Homo sapiens: one gene and its partners. The protein of the gene in region 1 purifies or fractionates together with the protein of each later gene. This does not show direct contact. Each region holds a gene or a part of one and is shown on either strand. Other genes may lie near its edges.

The links.
Region 2: the proteins of DENND1A (region 1) and DCLK1 purify together in Homo sapiens (affinity purification with mass spectrometry, with the first as the bait; one large-scale study listed by BioGRID). This does not show direct contact.
Region 3: the proteins of DENND1A (region 1) and TANC2 purify together in Homo sapiens (affinity purification with mass spectrometry, with the first as the bait; one large-scale study listed by BioGRID). This does not show direct contact.
Region 4: the proteins of DENND1A (region 1) and AGAP1 purify together in Homo sapiens (affinity purification with mass spectrometry, with the first as the bait; one large-scale study listed by BioGRID). This does not show direct contact.
Region 5: the proteins of DENND1A (region 1) and RASAL2 purify together in Homo sapiens (affinity purification with mass spectrometry, with the first as the bait; one large-scale study listed by BioGRID). This does not show direct contact.
Region 6: the proteins of DENND1A (region 1) and SYDE1 purify together in Homo sapiens (affinity purification with mass spectrometry, with the first as the bait; one large-scale study listed by BioGRID). This does not show direct contact.
Region 7: the proteins of DENND1A (region 1) and GIGYF2 purify together in Homo sapiens (affinity purification with mass spectrometry, with the first as the bait; one large-scale study listed by BioGRID). This does not show direct contact.

What each region holds. Positions count from the first base shown.
Region 1 is NC_000009.12:123,927,327-123,931,550, forward strand, and holds the start of DENND1A (DENN domain-containing protein 1A), read right to left. Parts: upstream 2,801-4,224; 5' UTR 2,599-2,800; coding exon of another isoform or gene 2,580-2,598; coding exon 2,563-2,579; intron 2,340-2,562; exon of another isoform or gene 1,331-2,339; coding exon of another isoform or gene 1,269-1,330; intron 1-1,268. UniProt on the Homo sapiens protein: Guanine nucleotide exchange factor (GEF) regulating clathrin-mediated endocytosis through RAB35 activation. Promotes the exchange of GDP to GTP, converting inactive GDP-bound RAB35 into its active GTP-bound form.
Region 2 is NC_000013.11:36,110,883-36,114,382, forward strand, and holds part of DCLK1 (serine/threonine-protein kinase DCLK1), read right to left. Parts: intron 1,334-3,500; coding exon 987-1,333; intron 1-986.
Region 3 is NC_000017.11:62,969,235-62,972,734, reverse strand, and holds part of TANC2 (protein TANC2), read right to left. Parts: intron 1-3,500. UniProt on the Homo sapiens protein: Scaffolding protein in the dendritic spines which acts as immobile postsynaptic posts able to recruit KIF1A-driven dense core vesicles to dendritic spines.
Region 4 is NC_000002.12:236,120,043-236,123,542, reverse strand, and holds part of AGAP1 (arf-GAP with GTPase, ANK repeat and PH domain-containing protein 1), read right to left. Parts: intron 3,352-3,500; coding exon 3,096-3,351; intron 1-3,095. UniProt on the Homo sapiens protein: GTPase-activating protein for ARF1 and, to a lesser extent, ARF5. Directly and specifically regulates the adapter protein 3 (AP-3)-dependent trafficking of proteins in the endosomal-lysosomal system.
Region 5 is NC_000001.11:178,475,104-178,479,350, reverse strand, and holds the end of RASAL2 (ras GTPase-activating protein nGAP), read right to left. Parts: 3' UTR 501-4,247; downstream 1-500. UniProt on the Homo sapiens protein: Inhibitory regulator of the Ras-cyclic AMP pathway.
Region 6 is NC_000019.10:15,106,273-15,110,200, reverse strand, and holds the start of SYDE1 (rho GTPase-activating protein SYDE1), read right to left. Parts: upstream 2,801-3,928; 5' UTR 2,768-2,800; coding exon 2,680-2,767; intron 1,146-2,679; coding exon 804-1,145; coding exon of another isoform or gene 498-803; coding exon 1-497. UniProt on the Homo sapiens protein: GTPase activator for the Rho-type GTPases. As a GCM1 downstream effector, it is involved in placental development and positively regulates trophoblast cells migration.
Region 7 is NC_000002.12:232,700,331-232,703,830, reverse strand, and holds part of GIGYF2 (GRB10-interacting GYF protein 2), read right to left. Parts: intron 3,247-3,500; exon of another isoform or gene 3,177-3,246; intron 408-3,176; 5' UTR 342-407; intron 1-341. UniProt on the Homo sapiens protein: Key component of the 4EHP-GYF2 complex, a multiprotein complex that acts as a repressor of translation initiation. In the 4EHP-GYF2 complex, acts as a factor that bridges EIF4E2 to ZFP36/TTP, linking translation repression with mRNA decay.

The DNA of each region.
Region 1 (4,224 bases):
ATGTTAAGCCCTACTCTGCATGTTAACAGCCTAATTCCTTGGTCATTAAAATTTTCTTCTCCATTACCTTAAACATACCTTTCTCTGACATTTCTAATATACAGTAATGTTCTTAGTCTTTTGATACAGAAGGTGAAAAAAAAGAAAAAAACCTAACAATTACTGAGTTTTTAACATGGACCTGACATTTACATTGATACTGTGTTCAATGCTCATAATAACCCTACAACCTGGACACAGTCCTCCCCATTTTACCTTCAGGGAAACTGAGGTTGAAAAGGCAGTCTGTGTAAAGTTTCATAATTAGCATTAAAAAGAGCTGGAATTTGAACCTAGACCTGATTCCACCTAGTCAACTGACTTGCTGCATCAGAGATAAGCAAGAGAAAACAAAAGGAACCCCTCCCCCTTGTCCCTACCTCCAAGACTGTCCTATTCAATGGAACCTGCACACTTAGATTTCACCACAGCCAGGAGAACATCTTGAATGCCCTGCCAGGAGGGAAAGCCAGCCAGTAGTAACCAAAGCTCTGTCTTCTCCAACAACTAGAGGAGCACTTAAGTGGGTAATTTCCTGTCCATCCCCATTCCTAGCTACAGGCAGAAGTTGCATAATCAACAGTCACTATAAATCACAACTACTTTTCATAACTTCTCTCTTCATATTCTCTTTCGGTTTCACCACAAGCTAACATATTTCCCAAGCCTAAGTTTTTATCACAGAGTAGTCTAGTTTCAAGATCAATAAGGCTATTCTTCATACTCATTTCACGCTTAATACAATTCCATGCCTTAGTAAATTCCCTAACCCAAGTGCTCAGAATTAGCGATGGGTTCCACAAAACACATTTGAGAAATGTATTTGTCAACCTGCTACCTTGGAGAGCAACAGAGAGATTTGATGGCTAGCCATCTGAACTTTTACTTGCTGGATTTTAATACTGGTTCTGACACTCACTGCTTCATGTCAGGCAAGTTTCTGAACTTTTCTGTAACAAGAAGGGTAAGTGTCCTCACGCATACTCTGCAACTCTAAGTTGGCTTCTGGAAAGTGTTTCTAAGTGCTATTGAAATCCAAGTTTACAACTCTTACTTGGAAGCAGGAGCTAAACTTGAGTGCCTCTTTAATCCCAATGTTTCACAAACGACATCTTTTTACCTCCCAAGCCTCTCAAGCTCTTGTTTGGAGCATGCTTCTAACTTTTTTCTCATTTCCACAAAAATAAAGATTTAACAGAGTGTTCATGCGACTCTTCCATTTTCATTACCATAAGCAAACTTTTCTAGTTTCATTCAGCAGATGTCTCAAGGCTGCTGCAGCGCATCTCATACATATTTTGTAAATGAGAAGCCTAACCACACGGGGGACTGCAAGGCTGGGCAAGGGTCACACTGCACGGGCATCACCTGGACATGAGATGCAATGTTTGAATAATTATTAGTTTCACCCTTAAGGCCCTTCTCCTTTCAAACTTCCCTAGTACAATTCTCAAAATGCTGAAATAAACACATTCCACAAACTTTCTTGTAAGAGGGTTTAAAGTGTCCTAGGAAAGTTGTTTTACAGAAAAGCCTATGCTGTCAACTTTGCTTTTTAATGCCCTTAAACAATTCTATTAGTCACAGAGGAAAAAGTGAACATTTGTTAGTAATTAGAGATAAAACATCTCCAGTTCTGGGGCAGAGGAAGGGAGAGGCCACAAGAGGACCTGGCTGGGAGGGGAGATAGAGTCGAAAGCCACACACCCAAATTGGACCGCTTAAGAGTTGCACTTTCCAAAGTCAACTTCTAAGTCTACAAGGACAGCAACAATGTTTCAGTGGATTCTGAAGTTACATGTATCAACAATTTCCCCGGAAAGCTAACCCTCCACCGGGAACTCCAGGTGAATGAATGAGTGAGGGAATTCGCCAGATTGAGTTACAAAGCCTTTCCAACGATTATCAAGAGCAGGTGCTCGGTTACAACACAGAGGTATCCTCCTTCACAGCCTTTGGACCTTGCTGCGTGGAGATTTTCACAGATAAGAGGGGGGAAATAGAGAGACAGGCCTTCCTCCCCGGCCATCCACACCTTAGGTGGCCACACCATGAGCGGCCCCTCCCTCTAAGAACCTCACGCGACTTCTGTGGGGGCCGCAGGCCTCAAGCGGCCAGGCTGCAACCTCTCCGGACCTGCCAACTTTCAGGGGCGCCCCAAACATGCCCAAACATGGGGAGGTGCTTCCGGGGCTTTCCCACTCCCCTTCCCCACAGTTGAAGGACCATTTTCAGGGGCTCTCCGTAAACCCGGGGAGGGGGCCGCCCTGTAATCTCAGCTGTTCCGACCCCCAGGTGAGGAGGGGACACCTGACCCCCGGCGCCCTGCCACCCCGCGCGCACCCCGCCCCCGCGCCTCCCTGGATCGCCATAGCAACCGTCCCCCTCCCCGCGTGCCGGCGTCACGCGGGGCGCCCCTCTGGTCTCGGCAACAAGTCCCCCGCGCGGCCCGCGGCCTGCAGCCCTGGCCCGGCCTCGCCGCCCCGCGCCCGGCCCGGCTCCGCCCGGCCCGGCCGCACTCACTTGATCCTGGAGCCCATGGTCCCCAGGCCTCCTCATGGGCCCGCGGGCCCCGCTCGGCGCTGCGCTGCCCGCCCGCCCGCGGCCGACCGGCCTCCCTCTGGCGCTCTCCCCGCCCCTTCCTCCCTTCCCTCAGGCTGGGGCCCGCCCGCTCGAGGCTCGCTCCCTCGCCGCCGCCGCCGCCTCCAGGGGTTAATGTACTCGCTCCAGCCCGGCGAACGCCATGGTCGCCGGCGCGCGTGCCCGGCGCGCGCCGCCCCCTCCGCCTCTCACCACCGCCCCTCCCGCCCGCGCTGCCGCCGCCGCTGCCCGCTGGGGCTGCTGGGAAGTGTAGTCCGCTCGCGGGGGCGGGGCCGTGGCCGGTGGGGGCGGGGCGGGAGCGCGGTCACCCGCACGTCTCCCAGGGCGCGGGCCCCGGAGGACTCTGGCGTTCCGTTGCAGGCCCTTACACATCTGCACCCCACTGCGCCCCGCTGGAAACCTCCACTCACAGCCGCCCTGAAGAGACCCTAATCCTCTCATGGAGACCCCAAGCCCTCCCGATGAAACCGCCACCAATCCTCCCATTGGAGGCCTCCCACCCAGCCTCTCTAACGGAGAGCTAATCCCCCGCCCAGGCCTCCATGAAAACACGTTTTCCCTTTAACATCCCGCACCTTCCAGTAAGTTCCGTGCAGAACCTCTTCTCCATCACACCGTCCACTTCCCCATCTGAAGGCCTTTCCTCTTCCTTTCCCCTTAGAGCTTGAAGGAGACCCCACATACCTACAGGAAAGCCACCTGGGGGCTTCGTGGACCCACGTGGTGGCTCAGCTCTGCCCTCCCGCTGAGGACCTCTGCCTCCCTTTATCAGCCGTTTTGGGAACTCCAACATCGAAGCCTCCTGTTAACACAACAGTCCCTGATAGAGATTAACTCAATGCAAATGAAAGGATTTGAGAGCCGAGATCACCAGCCTGCTACCTACCCCTGCTCCCCCTTGGGATTCACTTCCATGAACACCTCAATTTCATCCCCTCTAGGGCCAGAGGGATCATAAAGGAAGCAATAATCACAGCTACCATTAGCCACCCTTTAATGAGCGGGTGAGTGCCCTTTCTGCATCAGACACAGTATTTCCGTACATCATTAGTGCCAATCCTCACAATAATCCTGTGTTCATCTCCCTAATTTACAAAGAGGAAACTGAGCCACATTCCCAAGGTCACATAACTAGCAACGAGTGAAGAAGCCAAGATTAGTGTCCAGACTGAATCATTCCAGACACCTGTGACATAGTCATGCTTTAAGGTGGCACCTTTGGCCACAAGTCCAAAGACATTTTTAATATTAGGCTTTTTTTCCTTTTTTTTTTTTTTTTTCCAATTTTCTGTCCCGAAATGCCATTCATCACTTCTGCCATTTTAGTTCTTATAAATGCATGGAGTGCCTCCCCACCCTACCCCCACCCCATAGCCTCTACGTAACTGGTCCTGCGTCCTAGCTCCCGGCCAGGATGGGAGGAAAGAAAGCCAGAAGATAAGTCGTAGAAGACTTCTTCTGTTGGAGTCACCTTCTGAATAAAGATAGTTTCTCCCTTTTGCCTCTGCCTTTAGGTTGTTGAAGTCAAAGGGTAAACTTTTTAAAATGAAAACCAAAAAAAAAGTGAAAATGTCCAAACTGTCA
Region 2 (3,500 bases), on another chromosome or scaffold:
TGCAGTGGTGCGATCTCGGCTCACTGCAAGCTCCGCCTCCCGGGTTCACGCCATTCTCCTGCCTCAGCCCCCTGAGTAGCTGGGACTACAGGCGCCCACCACCACACCCAGGTAATTTTTTTTTTTTATTTTGAGTAGAGACGGGGTTTCACCCTGTTAGCCAGGATGGTCTCGATCTCCTGACCTCGTGATCCGCCTGCCTCGGCCTCCCAAAGTGCTGGGATTACAGGCGTGAGCCACCGTGCCCGGCCCTAATCAATGTTTTTTAATTCAACTCACCATCAAGGTTCTGTCAAACCTGTACAAAAATAGTCCACCCAAGACAATAAAAGGTGATGCTTCCTTTGGGTTCATCTGACCAACTCACATTAAAATGACCACCCATCCAAGTCAACTGATGTTCATTCTGTAGCTGAAAAACCTCCCTTTCATTTTAACACTGAAAAATACAAGATGCGTACTATTCTAGAAATATGCCTTTAAAGCTATCCAGATGGAAATATGTCATTTCTTAGATACATATTTTAAAATCTATAAAATGTAAGTAAATCTCACTAGCGAACACTACAAAGACTTAAAATCATAAAATATTTAGGTCAAAGAAATAAGTTAGAATTTTCCCTACTGGTCAGAGTTTACTTTCACACCTCAGTCATTCATTCTTCAGGCTATAAGATCTATGAGAAAACTGAAAACAGATGACAGAAAAGAATCATTATGTTAAGCAAATAATAAATGAACAAGTAGAAATCACTGAGTAATTATTTAATCTTCAAAGATATGCATTTTTTTCTTACTTTATTCCTATGAATAATCCTGCTCAACTCAAACTTCTGACTGTTCTAGGGCCAGCAAGTACATATTTGTTGATCAAGTGACCCAGGCCCTTTAACAACTTGAGCAAAATGTATGCTTTAGCCACGTACACCCTCCGACTCCCTGGTTCTTGCCTTAAAGTCAAAGTCACATCACAATATGTCTCTTACCTGTTTCCCATCCAACGTGTACAGGCGTTTCACCACTCCCGAGTCCAGCTTGATGGCATCGGTGATATCGGTGAGGACCTGCTCAAAGGAATGAGCCGTTTTCTTGTTCAGCAGAATCCTGACAGCTTTCCGTGGCTTCACGCCACTTCTGATGATGGTGACCAGCTTGGGCCGAATGAAATCCTTATTCTCTCGCACCTCTGAAGGGCTTCCTTTGGCAGTGGCCAGTGAAGACACTGCCCGAGAAGCCGAGGTGGTCTTGACGTTCACCGACCAGTTGGGGTTCACATTCTTGGTGTACTCCAGTTTCTTGAAGGGCTCTATGGAGCCACATACATAACTCTCTCCTAAGGAAGAGAGAAATATATTTAAATTTATACTAAAATATGCCCATTTCTTTTTTCCTACTTATCCTCTCTTTTGCCTTTTCTGCTTAGGGGCAAGAGCTAGCCCTGACTTTTCAAACAATGGAAGTGTGATTAATAATTAGGGAAAAAGAAAGATTTCTGATTGCTAATCTGGCACTGTCAGCAACAGATCCACATCCTGGAAAAACAAAACAAAACATTATTCCTCCATTTCCTCATCTTAAGGTCGGTGATAGAAATGCTGATCTACTTGAAAAGACCTTAGAGAAGTGTGAAAGTGAATTTAAAATAGAAAATATTCTTTGGGAATTAGAGATACTTAAATCTGCAGAAAATTTCAAAATTGGAAGTACCTCCATTTGCTACCTGAGATAATTTAAACACTAAGAATGAATCAGAATACAGCATCTTAAAATAGTCATATAATTTACGAATTTGATGAGAGTTGATGCTAAAGATTTTGTAAAGCCCAGTAAAGTTCCAAAAGCAAGCAAATAATCACCCTTCCTTTCTCTCATCTATATAGTGCCAATCACAGTGATCCACACATACTATAAGGTCAATTCATACTTGTTCATAAGTAAGAGGTTTTAGAAGTGTTCAACATACAAACTACAGCTTCAAAAATGGGCTCTAAAATAAATATAAGTAAATGTTTATTAAAAGTGACTCCTTAGCAGGAAATCTTTTAATGAAAATAATCAGACTATTAAGTAGATGTAGATCACACACACAAAAAAGAAAAACATGAACCAAGAGACAACAAATTGTAAAATGACGAATTCTAAATACATATTTCATAAAGTTAGGTCAAAGCCTTTTGAAATTAAAGATTTTGTAATGGCTTTTTTTCTGTGTTAATAAGTTTTTGTAACTAGGAATAGGTAAAAATGCTGAAAGACCTTCATAATTGTAGGTAAAATGACCGAGGCCTAATCTAACACAGCCCATTGACTTTTATCTAAGTCCTTGTATTATTTTTAAATTCACAGTGCAAGCATCCAAGGCCAAAGAATAAGTAGTCACATAAAAATAACTGAAGCAGGCCTTCAAAAGTTAAAAAGAGCAGTTATACATGTTACTGAACACTTGTTTTGCAGATGTTCTTAAAATATTCTCTAATGTGTATACATACACATTATGCCTCACTAGAAGTTGTATGAATAGTGCAAGTTTAACCAACCCCATTTCTATTCACCTGGCAGATCATGACTTGTCTCAGCTATGCCTTCCTCAGGATTTAAGTAAATATCAAAAACTTATATGTATTTTTGATATTTTCTTAAATCCTGAGAAAGGCATATTTGGGTACTATAGAAACAGCAGTGTTTTGGGAGTTTTCATGGAGTGATGACCTGCACATGATAGTGGGAAGAGAGAACTGGAAATTCGGGCTCAAGACCTGGCCTCTCCAAGCATGTGACTTTGGACAAGTCCCTCAGATTTCTGGGTGGTAGTTTATTTATCTATAAAACAAAACCTCATTAGGTTTTTCTGAAGATCAAATTAGAAGATAGAGATCAAAGTGATCTCAAATACAAACCTGCTATGTGAGTGAAAATGACCTGAGGCTACATACCCTAATCGTGCAGTAAGCCTGAAAGAAAAATTCAAAAACAAAATTACTAGAAATCGGTAAGCAGGTCTTATATTGAACAGTTACCAGTGGACACCACGTTGGGTCCATGTCAATGTGAGAATGCCCTAACACTCCCCAGTGAGACACACAGCATGTAACTGAGCTGGCAAAGCTAGCCTCTGTCAGAATTCTGTGCTAACTGAAGATATGCAATTGTCTGATTATTTATAAGTTTCTATACTAAGCTAATAACTAAAAGCAAAACAAAGATACAGAGAGCAGTTTACATTTCAACAAAAACTTTAAAAATATATTAAATTAGAAGAGGGAGCAGTTTTAAAGAACATAGCAACATGGAGTGAGTTTGTTAAAAGAGAAAATAAACACTTTTTAAAAATATCTTCTTAGATAAAGCACCCTGAAAATGTTTAAAAGCATAAGAAAGTTCTCCAGTTACACTGAGAAGGCGTTGCTGGTTTGGTTCAAGCAACAATGATCAGAAGAAATATGTGTTTAATCTGAGCTGTAAATGTGAGGCTCCTCTGCTGGATAATCAGATTTAAAGAC
Region 3 (3,500 bases), on another chromosome or scaffold:
AGGAGGCAGGGACCAGATCATTAAGGACCTTAAACGGTTTGCTAAGGAGTTTCCACTTTATCCATTCAGTGATGAGGAGCCAGTGAAAGATTCTGAAGAAAAAAGTGACATGATCAAATGACTATCTAGAAAGATCACTCTGGAAGCAACGCAATGGAAGAAATGTAGGCAAAGTTGACAAAAACACTAAAGGTGTTTCCTCAGCAATTGGATTTTTAAAAAAACACACCAACAAGATCATTTCTATAATGCAACTACTCAGTTTAAATGAGTGACATGAGACTCTCTTAAGTTCTGATAAACAAAGAAAGGAGTTTAAGATGCACTATAAACCATGTAGTGAATAAAGACAGAAATTGATATTACGGGGAAGAAAAGGCATAATAGAACACTAACACAATTATTTTGACTCTTAAATTTAGTAATGCTTACCTTTAACTATTCAAGAGCAAACAAGAGACCGAACATAACAAGATACGTCATGTGTGGCCCACAACAAAAAAACAACTTATATGACATATCCACAAACACAGCTTTCACATAATTTATAAAGATTTTTTAAAATAAACTGACCTAATAAATTTGTTTCCAGAAAAAATTATGGTATTATAGTTACTTTGACCCTTCTAGAAAAAAAAAGGTCCCAGAAAGTTTTTTCACTAATTGCGTAACCTGCTTTAGCCTTCTAAAACTCAGACCCAAAGTTCCTGTTCTCCATCTAATATTACCTTGAATCTTAAATACGCAAAGTAAAATGTCCTCTGAAACAGCGGTCCCCAACCTTTTTGGCAACAGGGACGTTTTTCCAGACAATTTTTCCAGAGGGTAGGGGGGCAGAGATGGTTTGGGGATGAAACTGTTCCACCTCAGATCATCAGGCATTAGATTCTCATAAGGACGGACAACCCGGATCCCTCTCATGAGCAGTTCACAATAGGGTTCAAGCTCCTATGAGAATCTAATGAAGCTGCTGATCTGACAGGAGGAGGTGCTCACACAGTAATGCTGGCTGGCCAGCCACTCACCTCCTGCTGTGCACCCTGGTTCCAAACAGGCCATGATGGTCCAGGGGTTAGAGACCCCTGCTCTAAAAGAAAGAAAACTGGCTGGGCACAGTTGGCTCACACCTGTAATCCCAGCACTTTGGGAGGCCAAGGCAGGTGGATCACTTGAGTCCAGGAGTTTGAGATGAGCCTGGACAACAGAGTGAAACACTGTCTCTACAAAAAGTACAAAAATTAGCTGGATATGGTGGCACGTGCCTATAGTCTCAGCTACTCAGCAGGCTGAGGTGAGAGGATCGCCTGAGCCCAGGAGACGTAGGCTGCAATAAGCTAAGATCACACCACTGCACCCTACCCTGGGAGACATAGTGAGATCCTGTCTTGAAAAGAGAAAAGAAAGGGAAAGCGAAGGGCAGCAGGAGACTGCTGAGTGGGAAAACACAGCTCTAGTCTTTAAGCTCTTCTTTAACCTATTTCTCTCCGTGGCCTTTTCAAGAAACTCATCAGGGATATACACTCTGCATCACCATACACACATCTCCTTAACTCATTTTTTTTTTCATTTTAAACGGTCTTCATCTAATGCAAGTTACTACAAAAGACGCTATTCAAAGAAACCAAGCGGTATTCTCACGGTATTACAACGAAGTCTAAACTATTTATTTGTATAGTATATTTACAGAGTGCCTTTCCCTCAAAATAATCACAGCATTTGATGACTACAGGCACATTAAGCAAATATAACAATGCTGAGTCTCAAGTCATTCAGAAAGAAAAAAAAAGTCCAAATAATTGAACTAGCTTCCAAACTATTTTATAATATTTGGTGCCTTGATTAGACTAGTACTAGAAGAGTAAACAGCCCTCTGCAACAGCTTGTTCTAGCTCCCTGAATTAAAATCTGCATATTGTACTGTCAGCAAAAATATCCCAGCTAACATTGGTGATTCTGGGTAAGTTCAATCCAACAATATTCAGCTAGTGTGCCCAATCAGAGTGTCTCAGATCTCATTTTAATTCTACTGTAAAAGGAAGAAATATGACAAGGAGAGGATTTTCATGCATTTCTTTTATGCACACTTGTTCTACCATATATTCAATCAGTACCAACTACCCTAATAGTCCCCTTTGAAATGACTGGATTAGTATACTCCTTTCTAGGGTCTCCTTCCCTCTCCATTCAAAATAATTCATACTCACTTAAGAAATAAAGAGCAAAGGCAGTTATGGGGAAAAGAAGAAAAAACAGAGCTAGCGTGGGACAGTCAAGAATTCATGATGGAAGAGGGAAATAATCTATTAATGTTTAACAATGTTAGTAAAATCCTAATTTGCAAACCAAATTAAGTTTTACAAGTGAAGTATGCTAAAATGAACTACCAACCAGTAACCAATACAAATACAAAGCATAGTCTGAGTGTATGACAATTTATTAAATATATTAAATTACGTAAGCATATATGCTGAATAAGTTTTAGCCATAAGCAGTAGATTATATTGAATTCCCATATCAACAAATGTATATAAAAAGGGAAGTGTTTGGTTACATGAGATATGCAATTCGCAGCACAATAAGGAAAGGTTTCTGTTGAAAAAGAATGGCAGAAGCAATTTGGCTAAGAGAAGAAAATAACTATTATAATTGTGAAAGATGATGTTCCATTTCTTAAACTGGGTAAAAGGCATGTAAGTGTTGGCTGCATTGTGAAGTCTTTATATTTTACACATTTTTATAAATACTTTGTCATATGTGGTCAATATCTTATAAAACAATGTTTAAGTGTGAGAAAAATCTGAACAAACATTTGTTGACATTAGAGGTAAAATGTACATAGGCATCTAATCCATTTGTGCTAATTATGGTAGTTTTTAATATAAATGAAAAAGAGGTCATAAAAATATGAGTAGGAAGAAAAATATTGTAATTTATCCTTAATTTCCCTACAGAAAATAAGCAGTAAAGGTTTACTGGTGCTCTTAAAAAGGCTGTGTGTGTGTGTATGAATGTGTATTTATATACACACACACACACACACACTATATTAAACTACTTGAAATTAACTTTTTACCTCTGAAGTTCCCTTCAAACCAACCACCATCACAAATATTTCCTTAACCACATAAAAAGTACTAATACTCCTCTACGCATAATCCCAGAAATAAGTTAAAAAACAAATTCCTAAAGAGAAATGTTCACACTGCAAATAACTGTATCTTTTGTATATATGCAGACTTAACATCTATGTGAGTTGTCCAGGTTTATCCACATCTATTGTACTTGCTTTATGATGGGCACATGCATTTTAATTATGCCTTGCCAATACTACCTTGAGTGAGAGGGCAATATAGCATATTGATGAGGAGCACAGGTTCTGGAGCTAGCATTCCTAAATGGAAACTTAGCTCTTCTACTTCTCAGCTATATAGTATTGGGCAAGTTATTTAACCTCTCTGTGTTTCAGATTCTCATCTGTAAAACAGAAATAACAACACATA
Region 4 (3,500 bases), on another chromosome or scaffold:
AAAAAATCACCCATAATCTTACTACTTAGAGATAACCTTTGTGAATTAGTGTATTTCCTTTCAATGAGTTTTCTTTGAATCTACATGTATATGTACATAATTGAGATAAGACTGTACAAATAATTTGTATTTTTTTCATTTTTTATTGATTACTATACTGTGATCATTTTCTTACATCATTAAAAATTACTCAGAAGCACAACACAAGCTGGGTGCGGTGGTTCACTTCAGCCCAGGAGTTCAAGACTAGCCTGAGCAATACTGGGAGACCCTGTCTCTAGAAAAAAACACATTTTAAAAAAATTAGCTGGGCACGTGGCATATGCCTGTGGTCCCAGCTATGCAGGAGGCTGAGGTGGGAGGATCGCTTGAGCCTAGGAGGCAGAGGCTGCCGTGGGCCGACATCACACCACTGCACTCCAGCCTGGGCAACAGAGTGAGACCCTGTCTCCCCACCCCTCAAAAAGCATGACATATGCAAGTCATACAGTATTCCACCACATGAACAGAATTCAGAACTCTCCCCTCAACTGTGCACACTTTGTAAAAATTGTCACTGGAGCCGGACACGGTGGCTCATGCCTGGAATCCCAGCACTTTGGGAGGCCGAGGAGGGCGGATCACAAGGTCAGGAGTTTGAGACCAGACTGACCAACATGGTGAAACCTCGTCTCTACTAAAAATACAGAAATTATCTGGGCATGGTGGTGTACGCTTGTAATCCCAGCTAGTGTCAGGAGGCTGAGGCAGGAGAATTGCTTGAACCCGGGAGGCAGAGGTTGCAGTGAGCCGAGATCGTGCCACTGCACTCCAGCCCGGGAGACAGAGTGAGACTCTGTCTCAAAAAAAAAAAAAAAAAAAATTGTCACTGGAAGAAACAGTGCCCGGATGTATGTCCTCACATAGAATCTTTCTTAGGATCTGTGATTGATTATTAGAGTGATGATCAGAAGGGGGAAAATATGAGGTTAAAGTACACAACGTTTTTAAGCTTTTTGCTCATGAAAAAGAGTGAATTCACTTCCACTTCTGCCAACTCACAATGTGTGGGAGTCTGAGGCCACTCAACAGCATGGAACCAGCGCCATCAAAGGAATTTTTGCTCAATTGGAGAAGCAAAGATGGCCTGTAATTTATAACTGTGTCCCCCGCTCCCACCAACAATTCACATGTTTAAGTCCTGACACCCAGTACTTTAGAATGTGACTGTATTTGGAGACAGAGCCTTTATGGTGGTGTATTAGCTTAAATGAGGTCACAATAGGGTTAGTATCTATATGAGAAGAGGAAAAGGCTGGGCTGGGAGGCTGATACCTGTAATCTCAACACCTTGGGAGGCCGAGGTGAGAGGACTGCTTAAAGGCAGGAGTTCAAAACCCATGGGCAATATGGTAAGAACGTAAGTCTACAAAATTTTTTAAAAACTGCCATTCATGGGGGTGGCATGCCTGTGGTCCCAATTACTTGGGAGGCTAGGGTGGGGGGATTGCTTGAGCCCAGGAGTTTGAGGTTACAGTGGGCTATGATTGTGCCACTGCACTCCAGCCTGGACGACAGAGCAAGACTTTGTCCCAAAAAGAAGGGGGTGGGGGGAAAGGAGAGAGCTACCAGGAGCGAGTGCAGAGGAAAGGCCCTGTGAGAACATAGGGAGAGGGCGGCCGTCTACCAGCCGTGAGAGAGGCCTCGCCAGGAACCATTCCTGCTGGCCCTTTGATCTTGTACTTCCAGCCTCCAGAACTGTGAAAAAATAAATGTCTGTTGTTGAAGCACCCCTGTCTGTGGTATTTTGTTATGGCAGCCCTAGCACACTACACACAACTCTTATTTAATGTGCATTACATCACATGTATGACTCATGAGCAAAAGGGAGTATCTGTGTGATTTTGGTGTAGTGTCTATATCTCACTCATTCACCAACTGCACCCATCAAAAAAGTCAGATCAAGGCTGGGCGTGGTGGGTCATGCCTGTACTCCCAGCACTTTGGGAGGCCGAGGCGGGTGGATCACGAGGTCAGGAGCTCGAGACCAGACTGACCAACATGGTGAAGCCCCGTCTCTACTAAAAATACAAAAATTAGCTGGGCGTGGTGGTGCGCACCTGTAATCCCAGCTTCCTGGGAGGCTGAGGCAGGAGAATTGCTTGAACCTGGGAGGCGGAGGTTGCAGTGAGCTGAGATCGCACCACTGCACTCCAGCCTGGGTGACAGAGCGAGACTCTGTCTCAAAAAAACAAAAAACAAAAAAGTCAGATCAAAAACATGCAGAAACCTGCTGCACTCTACCCATGCTGCTGTAGAACGTGCTGCTGTGCTGGACTGACCCATCCTGCCTTGCGGGTGGAGACAGAAGAGCCTCCAGCTGGGTGTCCCACCTCTGGGTGCTGTCTCCACTTCTGGGCACACACTTGCCTTCCCTATCTGGGGAGCCTCCCTGCCGGCAGCTTTCTGCCTGCCTCTGGTGGGAACCTGCCTCAGCAGAAGCCCCAGGGGTCCACAGGCAGCCCCTAAGTGGGCGTGGCTTCTCAGACGTAGCTCCTGGGTGGCACAGGCAGGGCCTCTCTGCACAACCACTTTATCCTTCTCTTTCACTCCTTCAAGCATTGTGACACATGCTTCAATAGGAATGTAAATAATACTTTTCCCCAGTAGAAATTAATCAGAATGGTTCGAAAGAAGTCCTTTGACAAACTCCTGCCACATCAGACCTCAAAGTTTAGGGTCCAGTATTTCTGTGTTAAGTGAATAAAAACACCAAAGGTTTGGAAATGGGGAAACCCTACAAGCCATCCCGTTAATACACCGCCTTCTCTCCAGAAGATGATGGAAATGAAAAAAGAGGGATAGCACCAACCCTGCTTGATAAGGGGCAATCACAAAGTTGCAATTTTCAGAAACTCTAGCAAGTACTGTACAAGGAGGACCGGCTGTCTCTCCGTAAGGCCCTCTGCTCTTCAATCAGAGTTTCCCATTAGGAACTGTTTCCACTTGCAGATCGAGAACAACAGCCTTCTGCCAGAAAGATGCCCACGGAAGCAGAACAAAGCAGAGAGTGCCTCCTGTGGCCCCGTCCTCTGCCAGGCGTGCCGACCACCTACCCAGATCAGGAGCTGCGCCAGGACCACATTCCCCTTGCGGCAGGCCAGATGCAGCGCCGTGCGGCCGTCTCCCTCCCCGCAGGTCTCGTTCACCTCGTCCCGGGAGCCGTGTGCCAGCAGCAGGATGGCCGTCCGCAGGTCCTCGTCGGCGGTGGCCCGCAGCAGGTGCTGGCCCAGGGACAGCTCCGTGCAGGGCAGCGGGGCCAGGAAGAGCTTCTGCTCGTACTTGGCACGGATCCACCGTTCCTTCTCTTCCCTGCAAAGAGCCACCAGACAGGTGCAGTCACGATCAGGCCCGAGAACACAGGCTGCCAGCCCCTGCCCAGTGTGGTCGGGAGAAGCCGAGAGGGAAGTGAAATAACAGAAAGCAAAGGTCTTCACTCGGCACAAAGCCCCCTGGGGGAA
Region 5 (4,247 bases), on another chromosome or scaffold:
GAAACAGGGATGCAGGAGAAGATGGGTGTATTTGGGAACAATCATGTTGGGAATGACAAATGAACTTCTATTAAGAAATTAAAATAAAAAACCTGAACCAAACATCAAAAATCCTGAAAACAAACCCCATTAATCTAACTGGAAAATTACAAGAGGATGGTAGTGGTCTAGGAAGCTAAGTGGGGCTACATTTCCTAATAAACCAGATGAAACTTTCTTTACCTGTCACAAGTTATTAAAGAGATTTCAAATTCTGCAGAATTCGAAAGTAACAGTTTTATCACAATACATGCTAATGCTAGTTATTTTTCCTAAATTGAAATCTTATTACATGGAAGTTGGGAAATTCTAGGACAGACTGTTCTTAATGTTAAAATATATTTTTAGAAGAATATTCCGGCATACATTTCCTTTCTTGTTTCTCTTCAAGTGTCCTAGTCACCCAGGTGCATGCTAGAAGACAGCAATATGTCAAATATAGTAGCAACTTTAGTCTGAAATGTTTAAAGTTAAAGTTTATTTGTATTCTTTGTAGGAATATCAATAAAAGACCTCAAACGTATCTATATCTGTACATGTACAAGAACTGTCAAAAATTATTCACAGAACAAAAATAAATCTTCTTTAGAACAAACCCAGGTAATGAAATGCTGATACGGATCTCACATACGGAATAATCTAAATGCTACTAGCACAAAAATATGGCTTTAAAAATAAAATAAAATCTTGGGTTTTGTTTTTCTAAGGTGTATTTCTCTTTCTTGAAATAAAAAATAAATTATTTAGAGCTATCATTGTAAAATAGTCGTGTGTTAACACACTCTTATTAAGGCCCTGGAGATGAAAAACAAAATCAAATTTAGAAGGTCATTTCCTCACAGGTGTAACTCAGGTTAATGTGCTGCTGTCTGCTTAAGTTAATATAACTAGGAAATGTCTAAGCACCAGTCAAAATTTAACCTAATTTACTATTTAACTTTCCTGAAGGTGGTCATTGAGTCAATTAGTATTTAACCTTTTGTTGAACTGGGAATTGAAATGTTTCCCTCGAAAATTTGGAAATCACATAAAATGATATTTACACATAAATATCTGTACCCCCACAAAGATGATGGAGGTCCCTAAAACACAACTTCTGTGGAAATCTCTCTACAACAACAAATAAATCTGGTTTTAAGTCTCAAACTAAAAAAAAAAACAAAAAACTTCCTAGGGTCAAATGAGGGTATTTAAGTGGAAGATAGCAACTGAGTAGGAAAGGAAAATGCATGCTGAAATGCAGGCAAAGACTACCACTTTCCTTTCCTCGGGTGCTCACTGCATTTCCCAAGTCTTGCTGTGTTGGTTACTCAAACACTTGAGGCTTAACTGATCAGGAACTGAAACTACTTATTTCTGGATCCTACTCTCAGATCAATGATATTCAACTTTATTTCTATGATTCCCCATGGTATCAATAATGATATCTAGGGTTCTTGAGACAATGCCAAACCAAGTCAATTTCAAGTTGCTTTAACTTATATATACATATAACACATATAGTACATTTTTTAGGATGATAGAATGTCATAAAATCTAACAGACGAGAGCATAAAATCTGAAAATCTCAAAGTTTGGGAATCACTGCTCGATAAAATGGATTAACATTCAGAAAAAGGAAGCCCCAGGAATTATGTTTTGTGTGGGTGTGTGCATGTGTTGTCTACAGAGACTGCCTTTTTATGTATCTATGTATTTTAAGAGTGGGCAAGGGATATAAATATTCCTGTTTCCTGGAAACTCTGGGCTACTGAGAAGACTGCTTATGCATTCATTCCCTTAGGGTCGTGTCTCTTCCTCAGGTTCTTTCACTCCTCCTAAGATATTTATTCTATCTCATGCAAATTTCATCACTTTTGTCCTTCCTAAACCCAAGAGTATACATAATCGGGTCATGACAAAGAGAATGCTTCTAGAACTAATAACAATCATTCAAACATGAAAAGAGATTCTATTTAAAAATTCAACACTCCAACATTTCTTGCTTTTAAGAAACTAAATCCTTCAACTGACGCATTGAAAAAACAAAGTATCTCAAATTATCGGCCCCCAGGTAAGGGGTAGGAAGGCAACTATTTACTGCTGGGGTAAGCAGGAGATTTCACTATTAGACTTGAAAAAGGGAAGGAGAATGGAGAAGGGAGCCCTTCTGGCTTTCCACAGTTGATAGGAGAAGGTGGCCTCCAAAGGTGTAGCTGAAAATGCAGTGAAGCTATGGCATGTGGCTGTTGGGTTTGGCCCTGTGACAAGTCTAGTCTGGTGTCAAGCGTGTGTGTTGGGCTCAATGTCACAATGGGGTAGACTGATGGGACTGAGGTAATCCTGAAGAGGGTTCCTTTCCCACGCTCAGTCCTATAACCAGCCTTCTCAGGAACTCCAAGCTAGAGGTAACTAAAACTAACCCTCTATGGAAGGGGAAACAAATACGAATGCAAACTCACTTGATGGCAGTTATTTTGCTCTGGGACTTCCAAAGAAGAACTCTGCTCTCAATCTGGTGTACCTCTGAGAACACAGTGAAAGCCAGGGGTCTACAGAACCACAGACCCATCAACAAAGGCCCCGGGTAGACTAAGATCTGAAAAGCTTTACTTCCAAAGTCAAGCTCATTCTTAAGGGCATATAGTTAACACTTGTAGCAGTCTTAGGTAATCTTCTTTTTCTTTCATAATCTTAACACCATCACAGAGAAACACGGAAGCAGACCAGTCAGAGAAAGCTAATTCTGACCAACTTGATACTATATGAAAAAAAGCAAAAAGCTATAGCAGCATGATTACCTCATTTTACCACATTTTTCTTACCGTTAGACTGCCATAAACCCCAACAGTACCTTGGTGATAGTGCTTGGAACATGGTAAGTGCTCAAGTGCTTGTTATAGTTACCTAGTTATAATCTCCCCTCTGACATGGCTTTTGCTGCAGAGACTCAGGGAATATGATGACCTGATGGAAATGTGACTCTTTTTGCTGCTTCAGCTCAGATTGCTTATTGCTTCAGTAATATAAAAGGGGAATATGAAGCTCTTTTCTGACTCCTACCAACACTGTCCTCATTAATGGTCAAGTCTGTTGTCAGCTAGACATGCACTTTACAAGCACTTCACCTGAATTCCAAATTCCACTCAACCCTGATCTATCCTGCGCCCCACAATGTGGTGTTGTTTTGAGGGAAACAGGAAGTGCAAGACATTGCTATCTTAATCTATTTGCCTCTCTTCAGCCATGTACCTCCTCCCAGCAAACAAAGTTATTTACCTACTTGAACTGAGGGAAAGCCAATTAAGAAACATCTCCATAAAAATTATCACCTGTTGGTGGCTTCTCTTCTTAAAAAATCCTTCAGAGTAACTTATACAGATTGCAGCATTCTCTAAAGAAATACTGAGAAAAAAGGTTGGACAGGAGTAGGCTCACAGGATAACTTAACATTTAACATCTATCAGCAACTCTGAACTTTTAGCTTATTGGTAATGCTCTATTATTATTATTTTTTACTATTTCTTCTTCATTCAAGATAACCTGGTAGTAGAAGGCTGCATAATCTGTCCAAATGTTTTGGGCATTAAATCTTTCAGTGAAGACAGCCCTCTAAGGAGCTCCCATAATGCTAATAAGATACACTCTATCCATCAAAAGCACATTTGATTTTTTGGGGCTTCTCTCAATTCCCAATATAAGTAATTTTATCAGCCCTCTGTAATCCATAATCGGCACTTAAGAGCTTCCAAACCTCAATGGCAAGACATCACCCACATTACATACTTATGGCCAATGAAACTGACAATTCTCTTACCAGGTTTTCTGTGGCACAATTGAAGGCTTTTACAAAGAATGAATTAAACATGGCTTGAGCTGAGAATAGCCAGAAACAAGAACAAATCTATGCTTACATCCCTCCTCCTTCAACAAAGGACACTACACTTTGGAACAGTTACCTCTTTTTCCTAATAAAATAAGTGATTTTGACCACAGTGTGCCCTCCGCTTGGAGAGAAGGTGTAAGAATTTGCAAACCAAAACCAAAGGTGAAGAAAACGTAAAAGTGCCAAAACAGCTGGATATAAAGTGTGCAGATCAGATAAACACAGTGAGAAACTCCCATTTTAGATCTGTCTGGCAGAAACAGGGATTGCTATGAAAGAAACTGTTTTAAAAGGTTGTGGGTTATGTGGCCATGGTGAGGTTGCTGAAACGTAAGGTCCAACA
Region 6 (3,928 bases), on another chromosome or scaffold:
CCCCCCTCGCAGTGGCCCTGTTCGGGCCCTGGCCTCCCCATCCACTTGCAGTAGGCAGCAGAGGTCCCTGGGGGTGGCCCCCGGCGCTGGCCGCAGCCCCCCGAGACCGTACAGGTGCAGGCTGAGGCGGCCCCAGAGTGCGGCCGGGGGTGCCCGGGCTGCGGGACCCACCTCGTAGGGCCGGAAGGAGGTGGGTGATGGGGGCCCAGCTGGGCGCTCCGGTGAGTCCCCGTCGCTGAGGTAACCGGCCCTCGGGCTCCGGGTGCCCCCAGGCCCTGCTGCCGGCCCGGGGCCCCCCACGCTGCTGTCCAGGTGGTAGCGGCTGATGACGGAGCCCGCAGGGGCAGCCCTCTCGCGCTCCCTGCCAGCCCGGGGGCCTCGCAGGCTCAGGCGGCGCCGCAGTTCCGGCAGCTTCTTCATCTTTATGGAGAGGCGCCTGGCGGGGCCCGGGGACTTGGTGCGGGAGGCTTTGGTTGGGGGGCTGGCGGGGGCTGCACCTGTGTGGAGAGCAGACTTCAGGGTCCAGGAACCTGGGCTTAGGGGAGGGGGGTGAGGCTGGTGCTCCCCTGAAGGGAAGGAGTGTGAGGCTGGTGTTCCCCTGGCGGGGAGGAGGGTGTGAGGCTGATGCTCCTCTGGGAGCATCTGACGGGGTGGGGATGTGAGGCTGGTGCTCCCCTGAAGGGAAGGAGTGTGAGGTTGGTGCTCCTCTGGGAGGAGGGAGTGTGAGGCTGGTGCTACCCTGAAGGGAAGGGATGTGGAGCTGGTGCTCACCTTGGGGAAGGGGATGGGAAGCTTGTTCTTACCTTGGGGGGCCAGGCCCTCTGACTCAGCTGAGCCAGGCTGTGGCCCCGGGGGCTCAGGTGCTGGAGGTCTGGGGTCTTCCTCAGGGATGGGGTTGTACCAGATCTCGCCGGCGGGCTCCCCAGTGCCAGGTACCCCAGGCCCTAAAGAGGTGTCCTCAGCTGGCTTGGCCCCACCCAGCACCCATCGGCGGCTACTGGGCTCCAGGCTTTGCAGGTAGGCTCCCCGTGCAGGGCTCCTTGATGCCTCGGGGCTGGAGGGCCCCTCTGCTCCGGCCTGGGACCCTTCGGGAGCCTGGGGCTCTGGCTCTGGAGGGCTGGGCTCTGGGCGCTGGGCTGGGTGGCCTGGCAGAGAGCAAGGGGAGTGAGACCCACCCAGCCCCTCACTGCCTGCAGAGCAGCCCTGTGCAATTGATCAGTGGGTGGGATGCTGTGTACGGCCCTGGCCGGCCCCTGATAAGTCATGGTTCCTTGGATCCTGCTGTTTTGTTTGGAATAGGCAGCCACAGGCTAGCGATCTCAGTTATCAGCTTAGAGCACCCCCTACTCAGTCCCTGGCATCCCAAAAGGGGACTCCATCCCTGCAGCCTCAGGGTTCTAAGTCAGGCTTCCTGGGGCCCGTAGGTACTGCGTTCCAGTCTCCACTTCCTCTACCCTCTCAATAACCGTGGCATGGAGCTTTGCACCTGCGTGGCCTTGGGCAAGTCGCTTCCCTCTCTGAGGCTCAGTATCCTCCTGTGAAATGGGGGGATGTGATTTCCATGTCCAGGGAGGCTTCCAGGAGCCTTTTGGAAAAGTATACAGCCCACAGCAGGCACTACGTGCTCAGGAGTGAGGAGCTGGGTTTTCTATTCCCTGCAGCACAGTCACTCCCAGTCCCCTGCCCCTTTTACCCTCCCTCCTGTCTTCCAAACTCTGTCGCCATCCTGGGATGGGCCCTTGTCCCTCAGCCCAGGCCAGACCCCCCACGCTCAATGCTTTGGGACTTCCCCTTCCCTCCCTCCTCTCCTGTCTCATGTCCTGGGCTGTTTCCTGTGTGTGTTTGTGTTTGGGCATCTCTGTCCCTTCTCCCTTCCCTGGGAACATTGGGAATCTTTGGGAAGGCCTGGGGGGAAGGGGTACGTCCATGGAATGGTCTGGCCTTCCTCCTTTAACTCCTTCCTTCCTGGGTCCCCCTATCCCACGCAGCTGTTTCTCTAAGGTTTTTACTTGCTACCCTGCTGAACTCCTCCTCTGGCCACCTCTGATGTCCACCCTCTAGGGTCTCTGTTTGTAGCATAGTCCAAAGAGCTGTTTAAGTCGATGGCCCTGGGCACATGACCCAATTGCTCCGTGCCTCAGTTTCCCCATCTGTATAAAAGGGACAGTTTCCTGGGGCTAAGGCAGGCGCAGTTGCCGTCACTGTTAGTAGGTGGGAGGCGGAGGGGGCAGCTACTCTGATTGACGGGCCGCCCCTCTCTTTCCTTTGCAGGAGTACGCCTCCCATCTCCCATCCTGCGCCTCCAGGGCTCCCGATGCCCCTTGCCCAGCCCGACTGGGCCCCAGTGTCCCGGCCTCCCAGCCCCTCCTCCCCTCCACCCTCCAGGCCCTCAGTCGCGGCCCCATTTCCTGTCGTGGGCGAGGCCCCCTCCCGGGCCTCCCAAGGAGCCCGCAGCGCTGGCATCCCCGGCCAGCAGCACATAACGGTCCGCGCCCCCCTCCCTCCCAGCCCCTTCCTTCCAGGACCCCTACCCTCCCCTGGCTGGAGGCACCCCAGTCTGCAGCGGGGTGCGGGGGGCTCCCCCTGATCCCCCCCACCGTCTGTCCTCGGGGCCCTGGGACCCCGCTCCCAGGCCGGGTGGGGCTCGGCGCCCCCTGTTCCCCACCGATCTCCGCTTACCGCGCTCCTTGGCGTCCGACTTTTTCCGGGGAAGTTTCTCCCGGCCCCGCAGGCGGGAGAAGGTTTTCCTGAGTAGCGGCTCGGCCATGCTGCGGCCCGGGCCGGGCCGAGCCGAGTGCGCGCCCCGGGCTCCGGCCGCGCCGCCCCGCGCCCTCCCCGCCCCGCCCGGGCCTCCCCGCCCGCCCCCCGCCCCGCGCCAGCAGGAAGCACATTCCGGGAATGCTTGGCCCAAACTTTTTTTTTTTTTCCCCTTTCCCGCGGCCCGAGCGGGCGATGCTGGGAGATGTAGTTGCCTGGGGCCGGGAGGGGTTGGAATGGGGGCTCCGGGTGCCCGGATCCGCTCCAGCTTCGATGGGACGTGACGATCGTGGCGCAGGCCCGATCCCTTGTCTTCCACCTCACCCACCCTCCCTGGATGGGACTCTGGGTGATGGCATCCAGGAAGTTCTCTTGGGTCTGTCTCCAAATCGCAGCCTCCACGTATCCTCTCTCTCCTTGCCAGGTACTGCTTCAACCTGGTGCAAGCCGTAGTGTCATTCGTTTCAATGACCGTCCCCACTACCCACCCCACCCCAAGCTTCTTCCTTGGTCTCCCCATGCCACTCTTTCCCCACTCAATTCTCTCACCTCCAAATTCCAATTACTACTGCTGTTTGACAAACCATCCCCAAACGTAATGATGTAAAACAACCATGTCGTGATTGTGAAAGGAAAATAAATCTTGAGACCTCCAAATCACTGAGCCAAAAGGAAGAAGTCAAACTGGTAACTGTGTAGGACAAACCTGCCTCCCATTCTATTCCTAAGTAAGATAGCTACAAGGTTAAAAAAGCTAGCTGGGCGCGGTGGCTCACTCCTGTAATCCTAGCACTTTGGGAGGCTGAGGCGACGGATCACTTGAGGTCAGGAGTTCGAAACCAGGCTGGCCAACATGGTGAAACTCCATCTCTACTAAAAATATGAAAAAGAAAAAAAATTGGCCAGGCATGGTGGGTGGGCACTGGTAATCCCAGCTATTTGGGAGGCTGAGGCAGGAAAATTGCTTGAACACGGGAGGTGGAGGTTGCAGTGAATCAAAATTGCACCACTGCACTCTAGCCTGGTCATCAGAGCAAGATGCCGTCTAAAAAAAAAGAAGAAAAGAAAAGAAAAAAAAAGCTACATACCTCCCCCACAATTTGCCTACAAGGAAATTCCTTATGGATGAAGGACAGGCAGAACTCAAAATTGTCCCTCTGCTCACATGAGA
Region 7 (3,500 bases), on another chromosome or scaffold:
TATGGCTCCTGAAAGCTTCCCAGTTTCTGGTTCATGTCCCTCATGAAGTCAACTGCTCTTTGGTTCTTTACAGTACTCCTGCCTCCAAAGCATTCCTCCTTGTTTCTTGCCAACAAAAAATTATTATGACAGTTTAAGACACAAATTCACACCAGGGTCAATGCAGAAAGGGTATGTTACTCTTACTGTTCATAAAGGATCTGACAGGCACCAGGGAAGAAGTTTCTTCTCACTACCCAAAACCTCAGGAGAAATAATAGGGCAAAAATAACTAAAACCTAAAAGCAGAAATTACCTATTTGCAAAAGCCCTCAGGCTTTGTGCTTCCCTTCCACACTTACCTGTTCAAAAATTCTGCTGGTTCACAGCAGGAGATTTGAGCAGACTTTGTTCAGATCCTTTTAACGCTGTAAATAATAAAAATATTAATATAAATCACCCAGCAACCTCTTAGGAAACTTTAAAAGTACAATCTTTCATCATAAATATACTTTGCAGAAAATGGCTTCCAAACCTGGTTAAAAGAGTAGATCACCTGGTGTATTTATAAACTAGGTTCCCTAACATCTAGAAAGTCTCAGTAGTTCTACAGTGGGACTGAAAACTATATTTTTTAACAAAAGTCCTAAGTGATTCTTATGAAGCTGTCAAATGAAGACCACCATGGGGTTTCAGGGAAGTCATTATTTGGGGTTTTCATTCAAAACCCCATTATAGGGACTTGGTATTAACTTTTAAAACCTACTGCCAGGCACAGTGGGTCATGCCTGTAATCCTAACACTTTGGAAGGCCAAGGAAGGTGATCGATTGAGCCCACGAATTCAAGACCAGCCTGGGCAACATGGCAAAACCCCACCTCTACAAAAATTAGCCAGGCATGGTGGCACATGCCTGTAGTCCCAGCTACTCGGGAAGCTGAGGTAGGAGGATCACCTGAGCCCAGGGAGGTCAAAGCTGCAGTGAGCTGCAACTGTACCACTGCACTCCAGCCTGGGTGACAGAGTGAGACCTTATCTCAAAAAATATATATCTAACAGAAAAACAAAAGCCGCATCACAGCAATATGCATCCTATGCAAATAATCACTGAGCCCTCAGAAATATGATCATTGCCAAAATGTCCAGGGAGCAAAGCTCCAAGTGTGCAAAATCACAACCTGCCTTTAATGCTCTGTTGGGGCAATATCTTAAAAATCCATAAGTTGGTGATATTCCAAGTGACAAGAGTGAATTGAAGTATAGTATCTTCAAATAGTTTCTTGGCTAAAATCAAATGATGCTTTACTGCTACTAACAAGTCAAAGAACAATAATTAACAATTAAAGTTGACAATTTCATTAACTACAGGAAAGCAACTAGATAGAGACAGATAGAGTTTTTTTTCTTTTTTTGGAGACAGAGTCTCGTTCTGTTGCCCAGGCTGGAGTGCAGTGGCACGATCTGGGCTCAAGGCAACCTCCGCCTCCCAGGTTCAAGCAAGTCTCCTGCCTCAGCCTCCCGAGAAGCTAGGATTACAAGTGTGCACCACCATGCCCAGCTAATTTTTGTATTTTTAGTAGACACAGGGTTTTGCCATGTTGGCCAGGCTGGTCTCAAATTCCTGACTTCAAGTGATCCACCCACCTCAGCCTCCCAGAGTGCTGGGATTACAGGCATGAGCCACTGCACCCGGCCAGTTATTTTCAAAATGGGATCTTGCTTTGTTCCCTCAGCTGGAGTGTAGTGGTACAATCAGAGCTCACTGTAGCCTTGACCTCCTGGGCTCAGCCTCCTGAGTAGCTGTGACTACAGGCGTGCACCACCATACTCAGCTAATTTTTTAAAAATCTTTTTTAGAGATGGGGGTCTCTCTCTGTTGCCCCGGCTGGTCTCATGGCTCAAGTGATCCTCCTACCTCAGCCTCCCAAAGTGCCGGGATTATAGGTGTAAACTACTGCACCCAGCCAAAGAAGAGTTTATTATCCATTTCTTCTTCCCTTTCCTCCTGCCCTTAAAAAATTACACAGTTCAGTGGGTAAAGTTGGATGACCTTTGGACATTATAACATGGCTACTTTTTTTGCAAAATTAAATCAGAAGTGGATGTGACTTTCTCAAATTGCATTCTTGGTGGGGCACAGTGGCTCATGCCTATAATCTCAACACTTTGGGAAGCTGAAGCGGGAGTATCACTTGAGACCAGAGGTTTAAGACCAGCCTAGGCAACATAGTGAGACCCCATCTCTACAAAAAATATTGGCCAGATGTGGTGGCATGGACCTATAATCCCAGTTACTTAGGAGGCTGAGGTGGGAGGATGGCTTGAGCCTGGGAGATTGAGGTTACAGTCAGTGGTGATTGCACCGCTGCCCTCCAGCCTAGGTGACAGAGCAAGACCCTGTCTTTTTTGGAGAAAGTCTTGCTCTATCACCTAGGCTGGAGCGCAGCGGTGCAATCACGGCTCACTGCAACCCCAAACCCCCAGGAGACAGGGTCTTGCTCTATCACAGGCTGTAGTGAGCCAAGATCAGGCCGCTGCACTGTAGCCTGAGCAACACAGTGAGATTCCATCTCAAATAATAATAATAATTAAGCTTAATGAAACCCCATAGTTAACAAGAAAATATAAAATTGTGTTCCTTATTTACTTAAAGTAGGGAAGTATGTAATACTTTGAAATACCTTTATAAAATGAAGTTTGGTCAATTAAGAGAACATTCTTTGTTTTTCAAACCTCTTTCTGCTTTCAACCTCACACAAAACTATAGGCAATTCAATAAAGGTATCACTTTACATTCCTACATAATTAATTTAGTATATTTCTCATTCATCTGAGAGCATGAATAAAATGTAAAAACAATATTTGGTCAAGAAACACTGCAATGCTAACTATAAGCAAGTTTATACATGAAATAAAAATCTCTAGTTTTAAAGAGATGTAATTTTTCAAAGTATTAAAAATGAATGGAAACTCTAGGACTTTTTTATCTTATTTTAAACTTCTATTTCTTTTTCATTTTATATATTTTTCCTTTTATTCTTAAATACTCTCCCATGCAAAAACCATAGGACTTTATCACCACAAAACCCTAGTGGGAATCAAGCAGTGAAAAAAAGCTTGAGTTCAGACTGTTACAACAATGACCAAACAATATGCCATGGTAATTTAAACTGAAGGAAAATGGACATTTAACTTGCCTCTAAGAGACCTGGGTTAACACCAACATAGGCTGTAGATTCAACCTAATGAGACTGGTCCCACTATAATCTATAAGAAATAGAATAAAACAGAAAGTATGGGAAATTTAATCAGCAGGAGCTAATGGAGAACTGCAAACAAAGTCAAAATTTGAAAATGGCACAAGTCAAAGATCCTACAGAAGGGCAATCATAAAAGCGACAGTAGTAATCTTTTTACCCAAAAAGGTTCTCCCAGATAGCAATCACTATCAACAGTGTCATCTTCCAATGTGAAGGTCAACAAAAAGAGAAGAGACAATATGGAGTATTAAAATGCAGAGT